Homo sapiens: one gene and its partners. The protein of the gene in region 1 interacts with the protein of each later gene in a pairwise test. Each region holds a gene or a part of one and is shown in the gene's direction. Other genes may lie near its edges. The genes, in order: NEK7, DRC7, PABIR3, FAHD2A, LGALS8, THBS3 and GNAO1.

Evidence for each region.
Region 2: the proteins of NEK7 (region 1) and DRC7 interact in binary tests that used the Homo sapiens proteins (3 or more experiments, as listed by UniProt).
Region 3: the proteins of NEK7 (region 1) and PABIR3 interact in binary tests that used the Homo sapiens proteins (3 or more experiments, as listed by UniProt).
Region 4: the proteins of NEK7 (region 1) and FAHD2A interact in binary tests that used the Homo sapiens proteins (3 or more experiments, as listed by UniProt).
Region 5: the proteins of NEK7 (region 1) and LGALS8 interact in binary tests that used the Homo sapiens proteins (3 or more experiments, as listed by UniProt).
Region 6: the proteins of NEK7 (region 1) and THBS3 interact in binary tests that used the Homo sapiens proteins (3 or more experiments, as listed by UniProt).
Region 7: the proteins of NEK7 (region 1) and GNAO1 interact in binary tests that used the Homo sapiens proteins (3 or more experiments, as listed by UniProt).

What each region holds. Positions count from the first base shown.
Region 1 is NC_000001.11:198,159,998-198,163,497, forward strand, and holds part of NEK7 (serine/threonine-protein kinase Nek7), read left to right. Parts: intron 1-3,500. UniProt on the Homo sapiens protein: Protein kinase which plays an important role in mitotic cell cycle progression. Required for microtubule nucleation activity of the centrosome, robust mitotic spindle formation and cytokinesis.
Region 2 is NC_000016.10:57,722,306-57,725,805, forward strand, and holds part of DRC7 (dynein regulatory complex subunit 7), read left to right. Parts: intron 1-407; coding exon 408-536; intron 537-696; coding exon 697-825; intron 826-2,309; coding exon 2,310-2,530; intron 2,531-3,500. UniProt on the Homo sapiens protein: Component of the nexin-dynein regulatory complex (N-DRC) a key regulator of ciliary/flagellar motility which maintains the alignment and integrity of the distal axoneme and regulates microtubule sliding in motile axonemes.
Region 3 is NC_000023.11:134,848,737-134,852,236, forward strand, and holds part of PABIR3 (PABIR family member 1), read left to right. Parts: intron 1-430; coding exon 431-492; intron 493-3,500.
Region 4 is NC_000002.12:95,405,708-95,409,207, forward strand, and holds part of FAHD2A (oxaloacetate tautomerase FAHD2A, mitochondrial), read left to right. Parts: coding exon 1-96; intron 97-1,233; coding exon 1,234-1,450; intron 1,451-3,500. UniProt on the Homo sapiens protein: Tautomerase that converts enol-oxaloacetate, a strong inhibitor of succinate dehydrogenase, to the physiological keto form of oxaloacetate. It is thereby required to maximize aerobic respiration efficiency by preventing succinate dehydrogenase inhibition.
Region 5 is NC_000001.11:236,526,982-236,530,481, forward strand, and holds part of LGALS8 (galectin-8), read left to right. Parts: intron 1-3,500.
Region 6 is NC_000001.11:155,197,898-155,201,397, reverse strand, and holds part of THBS3 (thrombospondin-3 isoform 1 precursor), read left to right. Parts: intron 1-193; coding exon 194-304; intron 305-393; coding exon 394-501; intron 502-571; exon of another isoform or gene 572-698; intron 699-787; coding exon 788-947; intron 948-1,086; exon of another isoform or gene 1,087-1,226; intron 1,227-1,284; coding exon 1,285-1,403; coding exon of another isoform or gene 1,404-1,416; intron 1,417-1,541; coding exon 1,542-1,594; exon of another isoform or gene 1,595-1,600; intron 1,601-2,779; exon of another isoform or gene 2,780-2,795; coding exon 2,796-2,989; exon of another isoform or gene 2,990-3,054; intron 3,055-3,136; exon of another isoform or gene 3,137-3,177; coding exon 3,178-3,356; intron 3,357-3,469; coding exon 3,470-3,500. UniProt on the Homo sapiens protein: Adhesive glycoprotein that mediates cell-to-cell and cell-to-matrix interactions. Can bind to fibrinogen, fibronectin, laminin and type V collagen.
Region 7 is NC_000016.10:56,330,989-56,334,488, forward strand, and holds part of GNAO1 (guanine nucleotide-binding protein G(o) subunit alpha), read left to right. Parts: intron 1-3,500. UniProt on the Homo sapiens protein: Guanine nucleotide-binding proteins (G proteins) function as transducers downstream of G protein-coupled receptors (GPCRs) in numerous signaling cascades.

The sequences.
Region 1 (3,500 bases):
CATTTAAGTATTCTTTTTTTTTCCCCTCAATTATTGCGCATTTACTGAAATATAGACTTCTTTTTTTCACTTAAATATGTGGTCTGAGATATCATTAGAGACTTTTACAGTGTTTCCAGAACTAAACACTATTTTCCTAGGAACTATCTGATGTTTTAAGAATGTACCTCTGTAGTATTACAAATGTCGCCACCATTCAGGGTACCTGAGAACTGGGCCTGAGAGCAGGGCCCAGTTAAGTGTTAGTGATTACGCACTTTTGGGGAAAAAAAAAGTAGGTAATTCCAAAATTTCTTTCAGGTTTTGTTTCCCTTGATTTTTTTTTTTTTTTAAATAGGCTTTGGTATTTTAAAAATGCACAGTGTAGTATTTAAAAAATACACAGTGTAGCTGCAGCTGCAGCTGCACAAAACAGCACTCTGTCCTCATTCCCGGTTTCATTCACATTTAAGTGTTTACCCCTTCGAATTTTTGTTGGAAAACTACGAGGGTAGGTATTTCAGTGCATCGTCTATAAAACATATTAAACTTAATGTACGACTTAAGGGTGTCTTGGAAATGCCATGTATGATTACTGTTTGCTCCGAATTGTTTTATCAGCACTTCATCAGGATTTATGTAAATATATAGCAAGATGTTTTAAGACGCATTTCTTTACCCTTTTGAGACTTTTTCAATTTAATTCTCCCCCCTCCACCCATTTTTGTAGGGAATATGGATGAATAACATTTGGTTACATAATTGTAATCAAATATATGCATTTGTATAATATAATGGCAGTTCAGAATTTTTAAATTGATACAATTCAATCTCAGAGTTATAAAACTTCTAAACTGCTGAATTCTCCTTTGGTAATTAATAGTTTGATTATTCCTAGGTGTTGTGTATTTTCACAAAATTTTTTTTATTCTGAAGAAAACACTTACAGAGTATATTTCATGCTTTTCAGTGGGCAGTGGGAATGAGAAGGACAGATGATCATGAAGCATTCCTTAATATTTTTGAGCAGGATAACTTCTTTTTTAACCTTTGTCAAAATAACTGCCCTGCCATACTATTTAGGTAATGAGGTTATACAATGAGTGGTTTTGTTGTAATAGCTATCAAAGTGTTAAGCGGAACAATATATAAATGAATAAAACTGATTTTAGTGGTCTATAAAAATTGAGAAATACGTGTTTTCTGTTACATAATGGAAATAGGCCTTTTTGTAAATCTTATTAGTAGTCTTCTGTTGGTAGTGGGTAAGGGCTACTTTTTCAATCCAGTCTGCTTTTTTATAGAATAGTGATTCACAATTTTTTTCTCTGAAGGATCACATGGTAAATATTTCTGGCTTTGTGAGCCCTGTGATTGCATCTGCTGCCATTGTAGCCAAATACAGTATCTGACCAAGTGGGCATAGGTGTGTTCAAATAAAGCTTTATTTATACAAATAGGTTGGTAGCTTTCCCCCACTCTAGAAAATAATACCAGAGGTCTAAATGTGGTGCTATGCCATTGATGTTTGGGTTGATTCGGAATTTTCCACAACAGCGTTTTATAATTATTTTTGTGCTTAGACTCTTGTGACAATTTGTTGATCTTCCACAGTTCCCTCAGAATAATACCCAGCTGTCCATTCCCAAATTTTGTGTTTCATTTCAGAGTTTGTCAGCATAAGAACCTCTTTTAGGTTTATCCATGTTTTCAGGTTTCTTCACCATTCTTTGCTTCTGGAGGATCCCACTCCTATCCTGTGACATTGAATGAATGCCTGTCTGTGGCTCCCTGCTTCTGACTAAAGCGACATAGAATCTAATGTCAGTCATTTGTCTTTACTAAATGAAAACTACTAGACAAAGAAACATACCAAAACTTACTCATATGTTTCTTTGTCTAGTAGTTTTTATTTTAAGCCTACTGGTATGACTACCTTTGTCTACTTTAGAGGGAATTTTTGACATAAGCAAGGGGTTGGGCAAATTTTTTTCTTTTTAGGAAACATTAACTTAGTCTTTCAAAAAAGACTCTCCCCCGCCCCAGTAAAAAATATTGGAAAGAGCCTGTGCTTTAGCAGAGGGCCTACAGTCAAGGTATGTTTGGCCTGGGGTAGAGGTACTTCTGACCTTTGCTCTGAAAAGAATTAGCTGTAGACTTACCTGGGTGTAGCTACTGAGTAGCATAGAGCAGAATGGAAAATGCAACAGCTTTGTGAAAAAATTACACAGTACACTTTCTCAGCTCTAGTCAGGAGTGGGTTTTGTGTGTGCTGGACTTTTGACCCCTTAGCCCTCGGGGAAGCCCAGGTAGGACCTGGGACAATCAGAATTCCTGGCTAGTTGCCACCAGCTACAAGCAGTCTCTTCTCTTTATCTGACCCTGCTGCACATATATTATCATTATCTGTGTTTACCATGATGTGGAAAAGACTAGGCAGAAAACTCCAGGGTTGTCATTGCCTACTTTATGACCTTGGTTGAGTTGCTCATTTTATTCAGACTGTAGTTGTCGCAACTCATAAAGTTGCCTTGAGGAGTAAATGAAAATACCTTTGTAAATGTATGGTAGCAGGCCCAGTGTTAGTTTCATTTCACTTACTTCTCTATTCTTAGGACCTTCAGGGGTGGGAAACACATCTCCTGTTGTCAGTTTGTTCTGATGACAGGCCCTGTCACCCACTCTGCCTTGGCCCAGTTTTGTCTTAATGGGCTGCTTCCCACTTCTGCCATTTCCACTTCCTCTGCTTGAATTCTCCTTTTCCTTTGCCCTGTGATTTCCATATTCAAAATTTAATGGTTCCTACATTTGAGTTAGTTTTTATGACTTTCTTTGGAGTGTGGGGAGAGCCAGCAAGCCATAGTTTCTCAGGCAGAAAAAGGCACAAGAGGCTTGGGGGGTTATATTATGGACTACAAATAATGTGAGTTGCAAAAAGATCTTTAAATACAGATTCAAAAAATTGGCAAAATTAAAAATGTTCTTCCTAGCATGCTTAAAATTGTTTTTTTAAATTGTTGAAATATTTCCCCTATATCCTTATATTTACCTAGGTGAATTACTATACATTTTATTATGGTTATAATCATAACAAAGACATATGTCCTTATATTATGGTTGGAAAAGTTGAATAGATGTGTTTATGAAAAATTGTTATACTTCTAAAATGTAATGAATTCCTAATCTTGTATTGCCTTTATATCTAACTGCTGGACCATATAGTAAAGTGATATGATACCGGCACAGTGGCTCATACTTGTAGTCTCAGCACTTTGGGAGGCCAAGGTGGGAAGATTGCTTGAGACCTGGAGTTCAAGACCAGCCTGATCAATATAGTGAGACCCTGTCACTACAAAAAATTTAAAAAAAATTAGTTGGGCTTGGTGGCACGCACCTGTAATCCCAGCTACTTGGGAGGCTAAGGCAGGAGGATTGCTTGGGCCTGGAGGATGGCTTGAGTCTAGGATTTCGAGGCTGCAGTGAGCTGTGATGATGCCACCGCACTCCCACCTGGTGACAGA
Region 2 (3,500 bases), on another chromosome or scaffold:
TGAGCAGAAAGGGGTACCAGAAGTAGGCTAGGGGTCACCTGGGTGAAGTTTGGAAGGATCTGAAGGAGTCAGTCCAACAAGGGGAGGAGGGGATGACGGTGTTTCTGGCAGAGACCTGTACAAGCAAAGGCCTGGCAATGTGAGAGTGTGGTTGGCTGCAGGGCAGACCCTCTGATGGGGCTCAAATCCCATTCTTGGGTGGATCTGTGCTTCTGCCTGGCCTGAGAACCCCTCTAGGGCTGGAGCCACCCCTGGTGATTATTCTCCTCGGCCTCCCTGGATCAGGCTTGGGGCTGGAGGAGTTCAGTACACAGAGAACGGGCAGTGGATGGATGAATGGCTGGGCGGGGCTGGCCCTCCCTTCCCCCAAACTAGCAAGAAGAGACCACAGCTGACTGTGTCCACAGCATTTGAGACCCGCTGCCCGAACGGGAAGAAGGTGATTCAGTACAAGAGGGCAAAGCTGGAGAAGTGGGCCCCGTACCTCAATAGCAATGGCCTTGTGAGCCGCCTCACCACCTATGAGGACTTGCAGTGTAAGGGGGATTGCTCTGGACATGGGTCCAGGCCAGCCCAGGGGCGGGGGCGGCTTCTACTCTCTCTGGGGTCATTGCTGGCCTCTGTGTGCCTGGAATAAGGGGGGTTGAAGGCTAGGGGAGCTGGCCTGGCTGCGGCAAGTGTCCATCGGCCCCACAGGTACCAATATTTTGGAGATAAAGGAGTGGTACCAGAACCGGGAAGACATGCTGGAGCTGAAACACATAAACAAGACCACAGACCTGAAGACAGACTACTTCAAGCCTGGCCACCCCCAGGCTCTGCGCGGTGCGTGGCTCCCCTTTCCTGGGCCACCCAGGAGCCTGGGGTAGAGGCCTCACACACCCTGTGGCAGGTGGTATGTGGTGGCAGGAACCAGCATACATATTATACATGGGTTCTTGGGCAGCAAGCAGTAGAAGCTGCCCTGCCTCCCTCAGCAAACCCGATGTGTGGGAGGTCAGGGAAAGCTCAGAAATTCTAAGGAAATATAACAAATGCTCCTCCAGGAAAGCTAAAGGGGGCGCCACATACCCGTTCTGTGGTTGGAATCAGGCCGGAACCTCACCATGGGGTCACACGGTGGAGGCCACATTTAAAGGAGGCAGTGCCGGACACAGGGGCTCACACCTGTAATCCAAGCGCTTTGGGAGGCCAACATGGGCAGTTGAGCCCAGGGGTTCAAGACCAGCCTGGGCTATATGGTGAAACCCCATCTCTACAAAAAATATAAAAATTAGCCAGGCATGGTGGCATGTGCTTGTAATCCCAGCTACTCAGGAGACTAAGGCAGGAGAATCACTTGAACCCAGGAGGTCGAGGCTGCAGTGAGCCGAGATTATGCCACTGCACTCCAGCCTGGGTGACAGATAGAGATCCTGTCTCAAGAAAAAAAAAAAAATCCTGACCAAGAAATTTACAAAAGAAAAGCATAGGAGTAATATACATTTTTTTTAAATGATCAACCTCATTTGGAAGTTGATAATAAAAAAAAAGAAACTAATAAGGTCCCTAACCAATAAAGGACCATCTTATAACCCCCATGTTGGCAAAGATGAAAAAAATGGTCCTACTGGGTATGAACAAGTATGGGAGCAACAGTCACTCTGTGTCACTGTTGATGGGACAGCAGATTGGAACTTTTCTGGAGGACAGTTGGGCAAAATATTGATAATGACCATAAAACGTGTACGCTTTTGGCTGGGCACAGTGGCGCACACCTATAATCACAGCACTTTGGGTGGATCACCTGAGGTCAGGAGTTTGAGACCAGCCTGGCCAACATGGTGAAACCCCGTTTCTACTAAAAATACAAAAATTAGCCAGGTGTGGTGGCAGGTGCCTGTAGTCCCAGTTACTTGGGAGGCTGAGACAGGAGAGTCACTTGAACCCAGGTGGCGGAGACTGCGGTGAGCTGAGATCACACCACTGCACTCCAGCCTGGGTGACAGAGCGAGGCTGTGTCTCAAAAAAAAAAAAAAAAAAAAAGTACACTTTTGGGCCCAGCAATTCCACTGCTGAGAATTTATTCTTAGCAAATAATGGACAAGAACAAAAAATGCACGATGCAGATGTTCATCATGGTGTTGGTAATAATCAGAAAAAGTTGTACGCAACCTAAACACCCAGCAATAGGGGACTGGTTCATAGCTAACCTCATCCATAATGTGGGTCTGTCTTCTCCCTGGGCCTGGGGTTGGGCGACCAAGCCAGCAGCCATACTTCCTAGTGCTTATGAAGCTGTCTCCTCCCAACTCCCGCTCCCCACCCAGTGCACTCGTACAAGTCCATGCAACCTGAGATGGACCGTGTCATTGAGTTTTATGAAACGGCCCGTGTGGATGGCCTGATGAAGCGGGAGGAGACACCCAGGACAATGACAGAGTACTATCAAGGACGCCCAGACTTCCTCTCCTACCGCCATGCCAGCTTCGGACCCCGAGTCAAGAAGCTCACTCTGAGCAGTGCAGAGTCAAACCCCCGGCCCATTGTGGTAAGAGCTCGCGGGGGCTGGGGACAGGTCGCCCTCCTTCTCTGGCAGCTGATGTCACCTCTGAATGGTGAGAGCCCTGGCTCTGGGGTGGCATTAAGGCCTGAGACATATCCAAGGGCACCAATGATGAACCAAGCATTTTACCAAATGTATTAGTCTGTTCTCATGCTGCTTTGAAGAAATACCTGAGACTGGGTAATTTATAAAGAAAAGAAGTTTCCTTGACTCACAGTTCTGCATGGCTGGGGAGCCCTTAGGAAACTTAAAATCATGGCAGAAGGGTCCTTTTCACCTTCTGCCTAGTGAAAAGGGTCCTTTCCACCTTCTGCCTAGTGAAAAGGGTCCTTTTCACTAGAATCAGGGCAGCAGGAGAGAGAATAAGTGCTGAGCAAAGGGGAAGCTGCTTATAAAACCATCAGATCGTGGGAGAACTCACTCACTATCACGAGAATAGCATGGGGGAAACCACCTCCATGATTCAATTATCTCCACCTGGTCCCGCCCTTGACCTATGGGGATTACAGTTCAAGGTGAGATTTTGGTGGGGGGACACGAAACTAAACCATATCACCAAATGCGCCATCCTGGGGTTGTCTGGTGTCAGACTGTGCCCTCAGCCATGGGGCCAAGGATGTGTTACTTCCTTATTGTTATACAAAAATACACACTCATGACTAAACATTTGGAAAATATGTAAAAATGTAGAGAAAAGTAAACATATCTCAGAATGGCATCTCTCATATGTTGCCACGGATTATAGGTTTGGTTTTGAGAGTTTTTTCTAATGTAATTGAGATCGGGACCCAGGGATTAGAGTCCCTGTATTACCCACTTAACATGAAATTGTGCATTTTCCCCTTCATGTCATTACAAATTAGTTGGCAACTGTGTGTAATGGCAGCATGCCAAAGAAGCTCTTTCTAGCAGTAAGGGATGTCTAGCAATGGAGTAGGCTGCCTGGAGAGGTGGT
Region 3 (3,500 bases), on another chromosome or scaffold:
CACACCTGTAATCCCAACACTTTTGGAGGCCAAGGCAGGCAGATCACCTAAGGTCAGGAGTTCGAGACCAGCCTGGCCAACATGGTGAAACCCTGTGTCTACTAAAAAAATACAAAATTAGCCGAGTGTGGTGGTGCATGCCTGTAATCCCAGCTACTTGGGAGGCTGAGGCAGGAGAATCACTTGAACCCAGGAGGCGGAGGCTGCAGTGAGCTTAAATCACGCCACTGCACTCCAGCCTCGGTGACAAGAGCCAAACTGCATCTCAGAAAAAAAGTAAAAATAAAAACAAAGAAAAGCAGTAAAATGATGTAATATCCTACACAGAGTCCCGTTTTTGTGTATGTCCTTAGATCTGTTATAATGAAATAGTCATTGTTGATTTTGTTAAAAAAAATTTCTTATAATGATCATGATGATTTTATTTTAGAAGAAGTCAAAATCCTACCAACATTATTAGACCAAGTATCCTTGGACCATTAAAAAGAAAAGGTACTTTTATCTAACAGTAGAAGTAAATATAACTTTAAGTTATTTTATAAAATATCTAAAATCAAATGTTATACAAAAATGTATTTTTAAAGGCTTTATTTATTTAAAATATATTTAATAAGCTATTAGAGGCCTTTCATTTTATGCAACTAGAAATATGTATAAGGACATTTTGAAAACTCTAAAATGCTATATAAATGTGAATTGAGAAATTTAATTCCAATTTAGTTGGCTATTAGGATTTTCAATATAATTCACCAAGGTAGCTATCTTCATTACTTTCTAAAACAATGTAGAGAATAAATGAATGAATGAACAGAGTGAGTCAGTCATCAAGTATTTTGCTGAATGTCAACCCCTGCCTCACTGCCACACACACACATTGCTATCATATGAATAAGTTGACACAAATTAGATCCACTTACAACACTAAAAATATATATGAAGGTGTATGTTCTTTGGTGTTTAGTTTCTTTATGGGAGTTATTTTTGGTTAAATATATGGAAAGTGACCCACCTACTCAGTAATAAAAGGGCAGTGGAAAGAATAAAAGGGCAGTGGAAAGATGTCTTTTTTAAAAACTCCTGCAATCCTGGATCCCACTTCTCAATGGTACCTCACTAAATTATGCTCTTCTTCCTTTTTTTTTTTTTTTTTTCTTGAGACAGAGTCTTGCTCTGTCACCCAGGCTGGAGTGCAGTGGCACAATCTTGGCTCACTGCAACCTCTTCCTCCCGGGTTCAAGCGATTCTCCTGCCTCAGCCTCACCAGTAGCTGGGATTACAGGTGCCTGCCACCATGCCCAGCTAATTTTTTTGTATTTTTAGTAGAGACAGAGTTTCACCATGTTGGCCAGGCTGTTCTCGAACTCCTGACCTCAGGTGATCCACCCACCTCGGCCTCCCAAAGTGCTGAGATTGCAAGCATAAGCCTGTATATTTAGTACAATTTTTGACTACAATGGGGAGGGGAAATGGGTGAATAGGAAAGGAGATTAAACTTAAAAATGTGTATTGTGAAAAATCTATTAAGGTAAGAAAGAGGAGTAAGAAGAATAAGAGGAGAGAAACTGAAATATGCTTTAATGTTCTTTGTATATTTTCGATTAATTAATGGCAGTCTTCCTAACAACATAACTAACTCAGCATGTACTTTTTGTATTCTAAGATTAAGGGCTAGATAAATTCTGGAAAATACTCTTTTCCAAAGTAAGCACATTGTTTTATGAAGATGCTTCGGTTACTAAGCTTAGGGGTCTTTTACCTGTGCTGTGAAATTCGGGCTAGTGTTGAAAAAATATTCAAATATATCAGCAGTTTAAGAGCTGTTAGAAGTCAAGGGTCAATTGAGTATTTAAAATAAAGTACGCTTAAATTGAGGAGTGTTTTACCAGATTAAAATAGTTCTCCTTTTGAGACATGTATACATAAATAGGTTATCACATGAAAAGTATCTCGAGTTTTCTTAGAATTTATGATTGAAAAATTATTTTTATAGATCAATTTTAACATAAAAGATGTAGTTTCTGCCCAGTGTCTTCGGAGATGTGACCTGTCTCACACTTGGTTTTCAGCTGCTCTGAAAGACGACTGCCTTATTCCTTTGAGGTGTCCCTGAGGGAACTCCAAAGCGAATTCTGTATATACCACCTAGTCCATATTTTCAGTCATACCCCACCCTCCAAAGCATGCCCTGTACAAATGTGCTGAAAATTCATTTGGCCATTTTTGGCCAGATACAATAACAGATAAACAGAAATTGAAATTTATTCATATATTTTGGAATATGCATATTCATTTGGGAAACAACAAACTATGTCCTATTTGGACCCCATTAATACAAATGAAATGTGGGAGAAAGGTACCATAAAAATAAAAGAGAGGTCCTGAGGCAGGGGGCGGGGGGAACTAAAAAGAATGATGATTATGTGAAGTGAGATCAAGATTAGAGTCTCCAAAGCATATGATGTCATATTTTATGGTGAGAAGCAGCAGTGACTTCCATTAGGAATAAGCAAGAGCATGGGCCGGGCACAGTGGCTCATGCCTGTAATCCCAGCACTTTGGGAGGCCGAGGCGGGCGGATGACTTGAGGTCAGGAATTCAAGACCAGCCTGGCCAACATGACAAAACCCTGTCTCTACTAAAAATACAAAAATTAGCCAAGGGTGGTGGTGTGTGCCTGTAATCCCAGCTACTCAGGAGACTGAGGCAGGAGAATCGCCTGAATCCAGGAGGCGGAAGTTGCAGTGAGCCGAGATCACACCACTGCACTCCAGCCTGGACAACAGAGTAAGACTCTGTCTGGAAAAAAAAAAAAAAAGGAATAAGCGAGAGCAAATAAGCCTTCACATCGGAATACTGCAGAAATTGGGCAGCTATAAATATCGTTTGACAAGTAATGCTGGTTTTAGCAAAGAAAGATCTAATTTTCTTTTATGAGGAATATGTTTTGATTTGTCATGTTTTCAATGTTAAACCAAAAAAGAGAGCTGAGTAGTTTTTCTGTAGTGACATAAATGTAATCTGGCAAGGCACGGGACACCAGACTTCTTTTAAACTTTATGAGCCATGATTACACTTCTGTGGAAGGTCTATGCAATATCTTAATGGTGACCTTAGGGTTTTATCATTCAAATAGAAGTTATGGGCTTGAATGTCAGTTTTGCTCAGGTCCAGAAATGATTATCATATGAATGTGAAACACTGTGCAGATTTTAACATTTACTTCAAGGCAAAGATTACAAAAATGCAGTTGTTGTTTTTTTTGAGATTAGATGTTCTACCTTAATCTCTAAAGATACAATTATTTTGTTCATTGTGTGCTGTAAAAGAACTTACCTATTTAGTTCATTGTGTACATTTAGCAAAATAAAGATAGCAACAACCTAAAGTTTTAAAATAAGGAATGACATTAAACTCATTAAACAGCCTTACTACATAGCTATATCAAATCATCTTGCAGGCCGGGCACAGTGGCTCACGCCTGTAATCCCAGCATTTTGGGA
Region 4 (3,500 bases), on another chromosome or scaffold:
AGGGGTTATCAACCTCAATGCCTTTGACCCCACACTCCCGAAGACGATGACGCAGTTCCTAGAGCAGGGAGAGGCCACCCTCTCAGTGGCAAGAAGGTAAGTAAGTGGGCAGCATCGCCCTGAAGCAGCTGCCCTGGTCCCCCTGCACCCTCCCCGCTCTGGGAAACAGCACCAGCAGGTAGCTCTTTTGCAAGGGAGCAGAGTAACCCCACCTTTCCTTTTCTCCCGTTCTCTTAAAAGATCCTTAGAAATCTTACATAATAACATCTTCAGTTTTCAGAGGAGAAAACTGAGAGCTAGGGGAGGTGATTAACAATTTGAAGGCCATACATGTGGTGCTGGAACCAGGACTCTATACTTCATCACACTGCCTCCTCTGGGAATGAAGTCCTGGACTGACTGACGGGTCTGGGCCCGGGGGTCCTAAAAGGCATCTTATGCAGCTGGGGGAGTGATATAGACTCCCAGCTCCTACAAGGAGAGAGGACTGCAAGGAGGTTTTCTATAAGACACTTGGTTCCTGGGTTTGGACTAGATTAGGTGAGAGTGTCCCTGAAGCCTGGACCCCTATAGAATCTGGTCTAAGGAGCTGATGAACAATAAATTAAAAATACTTTAAGATGTCATTTTCATCTATTAAAATGGAAAAAAATACAAATGTTTCACAGCTCACAGTATTAACAGTATGTTCCCATATTGCCATATTCTGCAAAGACTGGAAATCTCCATGCCCCTCATTAGGGACTTGGGTATATCTCTATAGAGCAGTAATATGCAGCCACAAGAAATAAAGAGGACACTCTCTATGTATTGTTACATATTGTTAAGCAGAGATCTCCAAAATCAGTTGTTTTTTTAAAAGATGTAAATAGTATGCTATCATTTGCATACAAAAGGGTGGGAGAAGAATATCCATAGAGTAGCTGCGAAGAGCCAGGGGAACGGGGTAACCGGAAGGGGAAAGGGAAACCTTTCCATGTATTCCAGTTTGTATCTTTTACATGGACATGAGTTACCTAAGGGGGAGAGGAAATCAACACTGGATAAATAAAAGCCCTGCTCTGATAGCAAAGGACAATAGTCAGTGATTTTCACACTGACTCTGATGGTTGATAGAGCTAGGAAATAGATTTCAAAAAGCAAAACCTGTAGCTGCTGCAGGATCTGCCCAGCCTGCCCGGGATTGCCCACCTGTTCCCAGCCAGACCCTCTCACCTGCTCTGGTCTCTACAGAGCCCTGGCTGCCCAGTTGCCAGTCCTACCACGGTCGGAGGTAACCTTCCTGGCTCCAGTCACACGACCAGATAAGGTGGTGTGTGTGGGCATGAATTATGTGGACCACTGCAAAGAACAGAACGTGCCCGTGCCCAAGGAGCCCATCATCTTCAGCAAGTTTGCCAGCTCCATCGTGGGGCCCTATGATGAGGTGGTCCTCCCACCACAGAGCCAGGTCAGTGTCTCCCCACTGCCCTCCCTAGTCACTGGGCCCATCACAAGGGCATTCTGAGCTCAGTATTGAGCCTACTGGAGCCACCTCTCGCTCAATAGCGCATTCAGCAGAAACTCTACAGGATTGTACACACAGTAGTAACACTGGCCTTGGAAAAAAAAAGTTAATGTACGTGTTTTCCTGGTTACAAAAGCAATGCACCTTCACTGTAGATAATAAAATAGAGATAAACATTAAAAAATTATGTCACCCATAATCCCACTGCCCATGGCTCGGAATATTAATGTTTTTCTGTCTACCTTCCCAGTGTTTCTCCGCTCCTGTATATGTTTATACTGTACATATACTTACCTTTTACTTAAGACTCCATCAGGAGCATTTTTTCATGCCATTAAGTATTCGCCCTGACACCACGGAGTTTGTTATGTAGATTAGTTTATTCCTGAGTACCTTACTGCTGGATACTGTTTCTAGTTTTTGGCTTCTATAAATAAATGTTGCAGTAAACATCCTTATGTGGAAAAGGCTTTGCATGTCCATTAATACATTATTATTTCCTTTGAATAAACCCTTTGGAATTTAAATATGTCAGCGTATAGGCAGTATTTCAAAATTTTTGAAAAATTCTGCCAATTGGCCTTTTAAAAAATTGTAAAAGCAACTTACACATCCACCAGTAGTGTATATACCCTTTCTAACACTGGTTACTTTTTCTCTCAGATTTTTATTTTAGAAATGTCTTGAAAATTATAGAAAAGCTGGGAAAATAATACAGTGAACACTCAGATAACTTTTCCACCTGGTTTCATTGTAAACATTTGGCCATATATCCTTTTTCTCCCTTGTCTTCTCCCTGCCCTCCACATGGCAAACACACATTTTTTTTTTTTTTTTTTTTTTTTGCAGGGTATGGGGTGGAGGGGACCTTTTAAAACACATTGGAAATATTAAGACAATTTAGTCATAAAAACGTAAATAGGCATCTTCTAAGAATAAGGACAATGGCTTGCATGACCATCCCACCATTATCACAACCAAAAAAATTAACTTGAATAATATTTAATATGAAATCCAATTGCCCCAATTCCCAATCGGAAGTACTGCTGACTTCCCCAAAGATAACTTCTAATTTGGTTACTTCGTTTGTTGCTCCATGATCAACCAAGGCCACACACTGTATTCAGTTATATCTCTTTAGTGGTTTCAATCTAGGACAGGGTTCCATAGACTTTTTCTTAAAGGGCTGTATTAGTCTGTTTTCATGCTGCTGATAAAGACATATCCGAGACTGAGCAATTTACAAAAAAAAGAGGTTTAATTGGACTTACAGTTCCACGTGGCTAGGGAAGCCTCACAATCATGGCAGAAGGCAAGGAGGAGCAAGTCACATCTTAGGTGGATAGCAGCAGGCAGAAAAGAGCTTGTGCAGAGAAACTCCCATTTTTAAAACTATCAGATCTCATGAGACCCATTCACTATCATGAGAACAGCACGGGAAAGACCTGCCCCCATGATTCAGTCATCTCCCACCGGGTCCGTCCCATAGCACGTTAGAATTATGGGAGCTACAAGTTGAGATTTGGGTGGGGACACAGAGCTAAACCATATCAAGGGCCAATTAGTAAATATTAGGCTTTGCGTGTCATATGTTCTGTTTTGCAACAATTCAACTCTGCTGTTATAGTGTGAAAACCACGATACAGAAATGAATGATGGGTTTCCAATCAAAGTTGATTATAGCAGATGTTGAGCTGGCCATAGTTTGCCAACTCCTGCTCTCAAACAATACCCCCTGCCCTTTCCTTGAAGAATCCAGTTGTCTCATAGCATGTTTCACATTCTGGGTTTGTCTGGTTGTTTCTTCATGATTAGTGTCAGGGTAAGCATTTTTATCAAGAGATCTACAAAGCAGATGTTATACATTTTCCATCGTATCCCACTGGGAGGCTCATGTCAGTGGTCCCAGAATTTGACCACTTGGTTTAGCTGACATTCACTAGGTCCCTCCATTGTGAAGATGCATTTCTATTTTTGTAATAAGCAATCCATG
Region 5 (3,500 bases), about 38 Mb from region 1:
AGAAATAGCCTTTCAGTGGTAGTAAGTTTAAAAAAGATGACTTCCTGAAGCGGAAGCTTGTGAGACATTTAAGATGACTTTGCGCATGTTAGAGTTAAAAACATCCCAAGGTTGTAAACTGATTTCCTGCAAAGATCTTAACAACAACAACAACAACAAACTAGGCTGCCTGCCACGGGTGTCTGAAGTATCATCTTGGCTCAAGCTGGGAGAATGGATAAAGGTTACACTGTTCATTTCTGCCCTTCACACAGAAAAGAAGATAATTTTATAGGTAAAATTCGTGCATATCTTGATTCTAGCATACTGCTGATTCCTGTAGTTTCTGGGGTCAGTACTCTCAACTATTGAGGTGGAACAAAAATAAGTAGACTTCATTTCTTGAGGAAGGGGATCTGGAGAAGTAGTTCTGCGCTAGAGCAGAAAATGCCTTCAGTCTTGTGGCATGGGCTGGATGCTGTTCTGAGGATAATGCATTTCCAAGGGAGATATTTTTGGCAAATAGCTTTTTTTTCTTTCTTTTCAAAATTCTCTGTTTTATTATCAGTTCTCACAAAAGAGTCGGAAAGGTTAGAGGTAGACTGAACTGAATGGCAAAAACATTTTGCGCTCTCTTTACGTTTCACTGCTGTAAAATATTTATAGTATAAAGGGCCTGTATTGCACTGAATTTCTCTCATTTGTAGCTAGTTGCCCTTTCAATGTTCCAAAAAAAAAGGCTGTAAATAACTTATTTTATTTATTCAATTAATTTTTTTTTTTTAATTTTTTGAGATATAGTTTCCCTCTGGTCACCCAGGCTGGAGTGAAATGATGCAATCTCGGCTTACTGCAATTTCTGCCTCCCGGGTTCAAGCAATTCTAGTGCCTCAGCCTCCTGAGTAGCTGGGACTGCAGGCACGTGCTACCATGCCCGGCTAATTTTTGTGTTTTTAGTAGATATGGGGTTTCACAGTGTTGGCCAGCCTAGTCTCAAACTCCTGACCTCAGGTGATGTGCCCACCTTGACCTCCAAAAGTGCTGGGATTACAGGCGTGAGGCACCATGCCTGGCCAACTTAGTTATTTAAAGATAATCAATTAGTATATTTTATAAGCTAGACTTAGGAAAACGGTTTTCAGCTGGGCATGGTGGCTCACACCTGTAATCCCAGCACTTTGGGAGGCCGAGGCAGGTGGATCACGAGGTCAGGAGTTCAAGACCAGCCTGGCCAAGATGGCGAAACTCCGTCTCTACTTAAAAATACAAAAATTAGCCAGGCGTGATGGCAGCCTCCTGTAATCCCAGCTACTCGGGAGGCTGAGGCAAGAGAATCACTTGAACCTGGGAGGCGGAGGTTGCAGTGAGCCGAGATGGTGCCACTGCACTCCAGCCTGGGTGACAGAGCGAGACTCCATCTCAAAAAAAAAAAAACCCCCCCACACACAAAACCTGTTTTCTTGAATCATGGTTGTTTTGTTACTGATAGGTTCAATAAGTAAATATATTTATTGTCTGTTGTATTCTTTATTAGGCATTATAAACACACCGCCACTTTTTAATTTTTATTTCATTAATGTTTCCAATTTTTTTTTTTTTTTTTTTTTTTAAGACAGAGGCTCGCTCTGTCATCCAGGCTGGAGTGGAGTGGTGCAGTCTTACCCCACTGCAACCTCCACCTCCTGGGCTCAGCCTTGTAAATAGCTGGGACTACAGGCATGCACCACCATGCCTGGCTAATTTTTGTATTTTTTTTGGTAAAGACAGAGTTTTGCCATGTTTCTCAGTCTGGTCAAGCACTCCTCCCGCCTCGGCCTCCCAAAGTGTTGGGATTACAGGCATGAGCCACCATGCCTGGCCTATTTCTAATATTTTGGTCCACATTGGTGTTAGACCAACTGTCCACATTAAGTTTTCTTGGAAAAGATGAAGTAAATATTGCAACTGGCCTATGTATTTTTTTCCCTATTTAGTATATTTCTTTGACTAGTTCAACTGATAGAATTCCAAGACTTAAAAAAGTCAGGCTCTAAGGCTGGGTCCAGAGGCTCATGCCTGTAATTCCAGCACTGTGGGAGGCCAAGGCTAGTGGATCACTTGAGCCCAGGAGTTCAAGACCAGCTTGAGCAACATAGTGAGACCTTGTCTCTCTATAAAAATACAAAAATTAACTGGGGATTGTGGCGCATGTCTGTAGTCCCAGCTATGAGGAAGAGTGAGGTGGGAGGATTGCTTGAGCCCAGGAGGTTGAGGCTGCAGTGAGCTGTGAGTTTGACACTGTGCTTCATTCTGGGTGACAGAGCAAGAACCATGTTCAAAAATAAAAATAAAAAGTCAGAGTCCGGGTGCTGCGGCTCATGCCTGTAATCCCAGCACTTTGGGAAGCCGAGGCGAGAGGATCACTTGAGGTCAGGAGTTCGAGACCAGCCTGACTAACACAGTGAAACCCCGTCTCTACTAAAAATACAAAAATTAGCCGGGCATGGTGGCGGTGGCCTGTAATCCCAGCTACATGGGAGGTTGAGGCAGGAGAATCACTTGAACCCGGGAGGTGGAGGTTGTAATGAGCCAAGATTGCACAACTGCACTGCATCCTGGGCGACAGAGTGATACTTCATCTCAAAAAAAAAAAAAGAAAAAAAAAGTTAGGCTTCCTTTTCTGTTTTTTTTTTTTTTTCTTTCTTCTCTTTTTTTTTTTTTTTTTAAGAGATGGAGGCTTGCTCTATTGCCCATGCTGGAGTGCAGTGGTGCAATCTCGGCTCACTGCCACCTTTGCCTCCTGGGTTCTAGCAATTCTCCTGCCTCAGCCTCCCGAGTAGCTGGGACTACAGGCGCACACCGCCACGCCCCGCTAATTGTTCTTTTGTATTTTAGTAGAGACGGGGTTTCACCATGTTGGCCAGCCTGGTCTCGAACTCCTGAGCTCAGGCAATCCGCCCGCCTCGGCCTCCCAAAGTGCTAGGATTATAGGCGTGAACCACCGTGGCTGGCCACTTACTTTTCTTTCTATTGAATTTGAATGAATAATTTGGAAGACAGTATCTTTACTTCATACCAGGAATGCTGCCAGTGAAATTTCTTGTTTGGCAGTTCATTATCTACCTATATATTTAATTTTGCTATTGTTTATAGAGTTCTTAAGATATGATTAAATGCTAGCTGGTTAAGAAATCATTTAGAAATGAAACAGAATTGGTTGTTACTCCAAGTTAATAAGTTGCTTGTCAACATAAATCCTACCTGGTACCCAGTTTTCTTAGGAACCTTGCTTCCATGTTTATCCTTTTCTGCTTAGTATTCTAAGTACTCCTTTTTTACCTTACAATTTAGTCTTAAAACACAACACAGTCAAGTCTTTCTTTTGTAACCTGTGAGATACCTTCTAGCCTTTGTGCTGTTTTTCTTCTCTTTTTGCTGCCTGCCTTCCTGACTGAGAGTGGATTTCCTCACTAAGGCTCTGCCCTCTGATTTTTCACTCTCTTTTCTTTTTTGGTTTTACTAGTGAAATTTTGTCTTTAATG
Region 6 (3,500 bases), about 43 Mb from region 1:
TGGAAGGAAAAGGGAGGGTCTGGGGAAAGGAGTAGGGCTATGTTTAGGGCCTGGGTTGGGGGTCTTCATAGGAGAGAGGTGGGCCTGGGCCCAGGAACTGTTTGGTGGGGAGAATAGGACCTGAAGCAGGGAAAATATAGGGAGGAGGGGAGCCAGACCAAACTGCTAGCTCCTACCCTTTGTGTTGCCCTAGTGTAACGTGGGCTGGGCTGGGAATGGGAACGTGTGTGGGACTGACACAGACATCGATGGCTACCCAGACCAAGCACTGCCCTGCATGGACAACAACAAACACTGCAAACAGGTGCAGGGAGCAGGCGGGCAAGGGGGCGTAGTGGGGAGCCCAAGCTGGGTCAGGCCAGAACTCATCCATCCTCTTCCCCTGAACTTTAGGACAACTGCCTTTTGACACCCAACTCTGGGCAGGAAGATGCTGATAATGATGGTGTGGGGGACCAGTGTGATGATGATGCTGATGGGGATGGGATCAAGAATGTTGAGGTGACTCCCAGACTGCCCTGCCCCTTGAAGCTCCTCTCCCCTCCTCCTGTCCTCTCTGTGCCTCACTTACCTCATCTGGCAGCTCTCTAGTAAGGGCCAAATACTCCAAATCAGGGAGGCAAAAACCTCGTGCCCAGGACAAGGAGGCTGGGTGGGTGGGACTGTACTGAGCAGTTTGTCCATCACAAGGGTGTGATCTTAGAAAAGGATACAGAGACAAGGTAGGTGCAAGATGACAAGTGATTTAGGGGAGACCTGACCCTTCCCCTCCCACCCCTCTGCCCAGGACAACTGCCGGCTGTTCCCCAACAAAGACCAGCAGAACTCAGATACAGATTCATTTGGTGATGCCTGTGACAATTGCCCCAACGTTCCCAACAATGACCAGAAGGACACAGATGGCAATGGGGAAGGAGATGCCTGTGACAACGACGTGGATGGGGATGGTGCAGGCCTGGGGCTGAAGGGGTGGCTGGGGGACCTGTGAGAATTTGGATCAGGTGGGGATGAAGCAGGGAAGCTAGGAAGTCTCTGTGAAATAGGGAGGCAGGCTTGTGGACGTTGGCCTGGGTGAGGAGAGATTACCTGCAGCAGATGTCAATAGGAATGTGAGGTAGGGCGTAGTGTTAGGCAGAGTGTGGACTAGAGGGTGAGACAAGAAACAGGCAGATTTCCTGGCCAGTTGTCCTCTGGGTGGGGAGACAAAGTTCGGGACTTTCACCAACCTAGAAGAGAGAATATGGCATGTTCTAGTAACAACCTTGTGCTACCCATGTCTTCTAGGCATCCCCAATGGATTGGACAATTGCCCTAAAGTCCCCAACCCACTACAGACAGACAGGGATGAGGACGGGGTGGGAGATGCTTGCGACAGCTGCCCTGAAATGAGCAATCCTACCCAGGTACAGGGAGATGGTAAGGACAGGGGAGGGATGAGGGTACTGATGGATGAAGCCCCAGCCCTTTGGATGGAAAGTGGTCAGATCACCCTCTTCAGAGTTATCAAGAGGAGATGGTGAGAACAGGTCCCTCTCTCTCAGACAGATGCAGACAGCGACCTGGTGGGGGATGTCTGTGATACTAATGAAGACAGGTAAGGTCTTGGTCAAGAGACGCAAGGTCTTTCTTTTTTTTGTCTTTCTGAGACGGAGTCTTGCTCTGTCACCTAGGCTGGAGTACAGTGGCACGATCTTGGCTCACTGCAACCTCCGTCTCCCAGGGTCAAGTGATTCTCATGCCTCAACCTCCCTGAGTGGCTAGGATTACAGGCATGTGCTACCAAGCCCAGCTAATTCTTGTATTTTCAGTAGAGACAGGGTTTCACCATGTTGGCCAGGCTGGTCTCGAACTCCTTACCTCAGGTGATCCGCCAGCCTCTGCCTCCCAAAGTGCTGTGATTACAGGTGTGAGCCACTGTGCCAGCGAAATGCAAGGTCTTATAGGGGATATTTTACTTTCCTCTAGTATATCCTTTTTTTTTTTTTTTTGAGACGGAGTCTTGCTCTGTCGCCCAGGCTGGAGTACAGTGGCATGATCTCGGCTCACTGCAAGCTCCACCTCCCGAGTTCACGCCATTCTTCTGCCTCAGCCTCCCAAGTAGCTGGGACTACAGGCGCCTGCCACCACGCCCGGCTAATTTTTTGTGTTTTTAGTAGAGACGGGGTTTCACTGTGTTAACCAGGATGGTCTCGATCTCCTGATCTCGTGATTTGCCTGCCTCAGCCTCCCAAAGTGCTGGGATTACAGGCGTGAGCCACCGTGCCCGGCCTCCTTTTTTTTTTTGAGATGGAGTCTTGCTCTGTCACTCAAGCTGGAGTGCAGTGATATCGGCTCACTGCGACCTCCACCTCCAGGGTTCAAGCGATTTTCCTGCCTCAGCCTCCCGAGTAGCTGGGATTACAGGCGCGTGCTACCAAGCTCAGCTAATTTTTGTGTTTTTAGTAGAGACAGGGTTTCATCGTGTTGGCCAGGCTGGTCTCGAACTCCTGACCTCAGGTGATCTGCCCGCCTTGGCCTCCCAAAGTACTGGGAATACAGGCATGAGCCACTGTGCCCAGGCCATAGTATATTCTAAATTCCTTCTATGATTTAGCCTTAATTCTCTATTGCTATTCAGCAGGAATTTATTCTTACAGTCATCCCTCCATTCCTACTGCCAGACCTTCACCTCACCTGGCTGACTGCCAGGGGTCTGATTGTATGGAGAGCAGGCTCCAGAGACTCCCAGGCAGAAGCGAAGGGAAGGACAAGGAGTACCTTTAAATCCTTTATTTGGTACCTGTTCTTCTGATTAGCGATGGGGATGGGCATCAGGACACCAAGGACAACTGCCCACAGCTGCCAAATAGCTCCCAGCTGGACTCTGATAACGATGGACTTGGAGATGAGTGTGATGGGGATGATGACAATGATGGCATCCCAGATTATGTGCCTCCTGGTCCCGATAACTGCCGCCTGGTACCCAATCCCAATCAGAAGGACTCAGATGGTAAGCCTGCGGACCCAGAGCACGTTAGACTGGTGTTGCCTTTGCCCAGGTGGAGGCAGCAAGCCCTGTTGGGAAGTGAGGAAGGGCAAGGTGGGGAAAGATGTCAGGAATGCAGGCCCAACAGATGGTATTGTTGCCTAATGGCAGTGGCCAGGGCCTTCCTGAGCACCCAGCCTCACTCTGCCCAGGCAATGGCGTTGGTGATGTGTGTGAGGATGACTTTGACAATGATGCTGTGGTCGACCCCCTGGATGTGTGTCCTGAAAGTGCAGAGGTAACGCTTACGGATTTTCGGGCCTATCAGACCGTCGTCCTGGATCCTGAGGGTGATGCTCAGATTGACCCAAACTGGGTTGTGCTCAACCAGGTAACTCGGGGCAGTGGGCTGGGCAGGTGCTATCAGACAGGGCTACTGGGACGGGGGGCCTGGGAGGGATAGCACACCTGCATCACAGCTTTTTCTTTACTATACAACCCCAGGGCATGGAAATCGTTCAGACCATGAACAGTG
Region 7 (3,500 bases), on another chromosome or scaffold:
ACATTTCCTGTCTTAGCAGTTAGACCTCAGCTTCTGACAAAGTCTTGGGCCCAGTATAGAAAGCAGATCAGAGTAGGTTTGTTGTGCTGGAAAGGAGAGGGAGGACTCACAGGGCTGCCACAGCACGTGCTTCCAGGGGGTGCCATTGACACCCTAATGCCCCAACCACCAAAGCACTTCTCTGCCCAGCCCTTTACAGGGGAGGGACCAGGGCACAGGCTCCTGAGCAGGCTCTTGGTGCACCCCGGCCTCTGTGAACAGGGCTGGCTCTCCCTTCTGGATAACTACCTAGAGGCAGGTCCCAGAAACCCTGGGCACATCCAACCAGGGGCTGTGAAAGGTGCTCTGGGGCCTGGTTGGCATTGGCTTTCCTCAAATCCAGTTCCCCACTGAGTTGTCCATGCTGGCGTCCGACGTTTCCTCTCCTCACCTTCTCTCTTGACCCCACTCCTATCGAGCTCTTGCTCCTCCGCCTGCTGAGATGGCTCATAGCCCAGTCCTATCCTGGGGGCTGCTCCATCAGCCTCCTCCCACTCAGGGTTCAGGGTTCAGTCCCCTAGTACCTGGTACCTCCTTTCACTCCCAGCCCCCGCCTCCTCTCGGGCCGCCCTTTCCAGACTCCCTCGATGCCTCCTGCCCACCCACCCAGGCAACTGGTGATGGGGGAGGTCTGCTGGGGGCTGCTGTATCCCGTCCCCAAGCTCCATCCCAGAAGCACCTCCTCTCAAGGCCTGGTGCCTGGTGACCTTCTCCTGTCTCGTTTTAAACACCTTGTACACTTGGACAACTCTCAAATTCATATCGCCAGCCCAGCCCTCCCTCCTGACTTCTGCCTACTCAGTGCCTGTTTGGACATCAAATGAGTCTCAAGTTAACATGAGCCCGTGGAACCCCTGGCTCCCATCCTCCCACTAGAAGCTGCTCTGTGTGCTCCTCCCTCCCTCTAAATGTGTCTCATTCCACCACGTGGAGGTATCTCTACTTCTGCTCGTCCTCCTGTATCCCACACCGAGGCCACCAGCAGATGCAGCTCCCCTGGCAGGTACATCAGATTCTGACCACTCACACCCTCCACAGCCACCCCCACTGTGCCAGTGCCATCTGGTGACGACAGCAGCTCTGCAGGCCCCACCCGCTGACCTGCTCTCATGGCAGCAACAGGGCCGTTGTCAACATGCTTCTGGCCAGAACCCTCGAGGGGCTCCCATCTCACTCAGAGCAAAAGCTCAAGCCCTGACAATGACCTCAAGGGCCTGCTTGCCCCAGCCGGACTCTGGCCACCCTCACCTCCACCACCTTCCCCAGCCTCACCCACCACCTGGCCCCTCCACGTGTGCTTCCTGCCGCCATGCCTGCCAGTGTTTCCACTGGGCCACTCGAGGCCCACTTGCTCCCTCATTCCCCTCAGTCTCCCCTATCCAGACGCCTTCCCCAACCACCCTGCATCAAATAGCAGCCCCCAGCAGCTCTCCCCCATCACTAATAGCCTGATTCGTTCTCTCACACTACCTCCTGACATATCATCTCTCTGACTCTTCTGTTTACCACCTCACACACGTGTGCACACTCACTTGGAACACAGGCCCTGGGAAGGTGGGGCTGTGTCGACTGCCCCATCCCCAGCTCCTGGAACAGTGGCTAGGTGGGATGGACAGCAGGTGCACAGTCAGCCTTCCCGACTGGGTTGTTAAGCAGTTCTCCCACACCTTGCCCACCCTCCACAGCCGTCTCCTTGCATGAGGCTCGGCCAGCACAGAGAGGCCAGAGGGCCAGGTTGCCCATCTAAAGGAGGTTTGCCCTGGCTGGGAAAGGAAGAGCAGGACCAAACGCTTCCAGGCTGGTGTCCAGCTGCAGATGACAGCAGAGGGCGTCCTCACAGCTTGGAAGCAGAGGTCATGGGCGCCAGGGCGGGGCAGGCACAGAGGCTTGGGAGAGGCTCCTTCTGGCTGAGACCAGAGCCTGCCCAGATGCCACTGGCTGGCGAGGAGGCTGTGAGGCCGGGGGCGTGTACAGGTCTGCTCTGCAGCCTCGGCTCTCTCACCCCATCCCCACACCGTTCCTGTCCACGGAGGGCAGTCAGGCTCAGGAGAGGAGGCCAGGAGTCCTGTTTAAATTTTTTTTCTGGATTTTTAAAATGCTGATGATGTCCAGTTTAAGAGCGTGGGGTCTGGAGCCAGTCAGAACTGGGCTGGAATCCCAGCCAAGTGCATTTTCTTTTTTTCTTTTTTTTTTTTTTCTCCCCGAGACAGAGTCTTGCTCTGTCACCCAGGCTGGAGTACAGTGGCACGATCTCAACTCACTGCAACCTCCGCCTCCTGGGTTGAAGCGATTCTCCTGCCTCAGCCTCCTGAGTGCTGGGATTATAGGCACCTGCCACCAGGCCCAGCTAATTTTTGCATTTTTAGTAGAGATGGGGTTTCACCATGTTGGCCAGGATGGTCTCAAAATCCTGACCTCATGATCCGCCCACCTTGGCCTCCCAAAGTGCTGGGATTACAGGCGTGAGCCACCGCACCCGGCTGCCAAGTTCATTTTCTCGCAGTGTGACTTCAAGCTTACCTCCCTGAGCCTTGGAAGCCACCCTTCTGTTTTCTTTTCTTAGGGGCATTCTCACAAGGATTGTCACTGGGTTCTATCAGTGAACACCCTAGCTGGCGAAGTCATCTGCCCTTTCCAGCCCTGTGGACATCCATGAGCTGGTCAGCATGCCCATCTCTCATGCAGTGGTAACTGCAGGTCCAGCCAGCAAGCTGGCCCCCAGCAGGTCCTGGAGCAGATGCAGCCTGGGACCCCACATCGTTCTGTGGTTCAGACACTTGGGGCTCCTCCCTGTGGGCTGCTTGTGGTTTGCCCCGGCAGCAGGGATGGGTGGCCTGGCAGGCTCCATGGATCACTGAGTCTTCCTTCAGGCCTGGCCCAGCTCCCCACTTCCTGATTTCCCAGATCCTACCCTGGCTTTAGGTTCAAACTTAACCCACAATGAACCCCAAAGCCCTTGCAGGCAGCGTCCTCTGAGTGCTTGGCCTGAGGCCTGGGCAGGTGACTTGCAAAAGCCTGGTCTGTCCCCACAGCAGGAGGTAGCAGGGGTAAAGAGCCCTGATTCCAAAGACCGGGTCCCAGGGAGGCCCAGCCGCTGTATGGCTGTGCAGCCCTGAGCCTCCAAGAGCATCAAATTGGAAGGGGCACACAGACCCCTTGGTAAGTGAGAAGGAAGTGTGGAGAAGGCAGGGAACTGCTCAGGGGCCGCTGAAGCCCCAGACAGTAATAAAATTATGGCCTCTGGAGCCAAGGGTCCGGGTCACAGCCTCAGGCAAGGTACTTACCTTCGATGAGCCCCAGTTTTAGTACATTTAACTCAGGGAAATTACACATGAAACATGGTTACACATGCAAAGAATAGAACCTATCTGTTGGCCATTATTATCTTTTAAATGAAAAAATGACAAAACAGTATTATAATAAACATGGTAGTCTCATATAAAAGCTTGATCTTGTCTGAG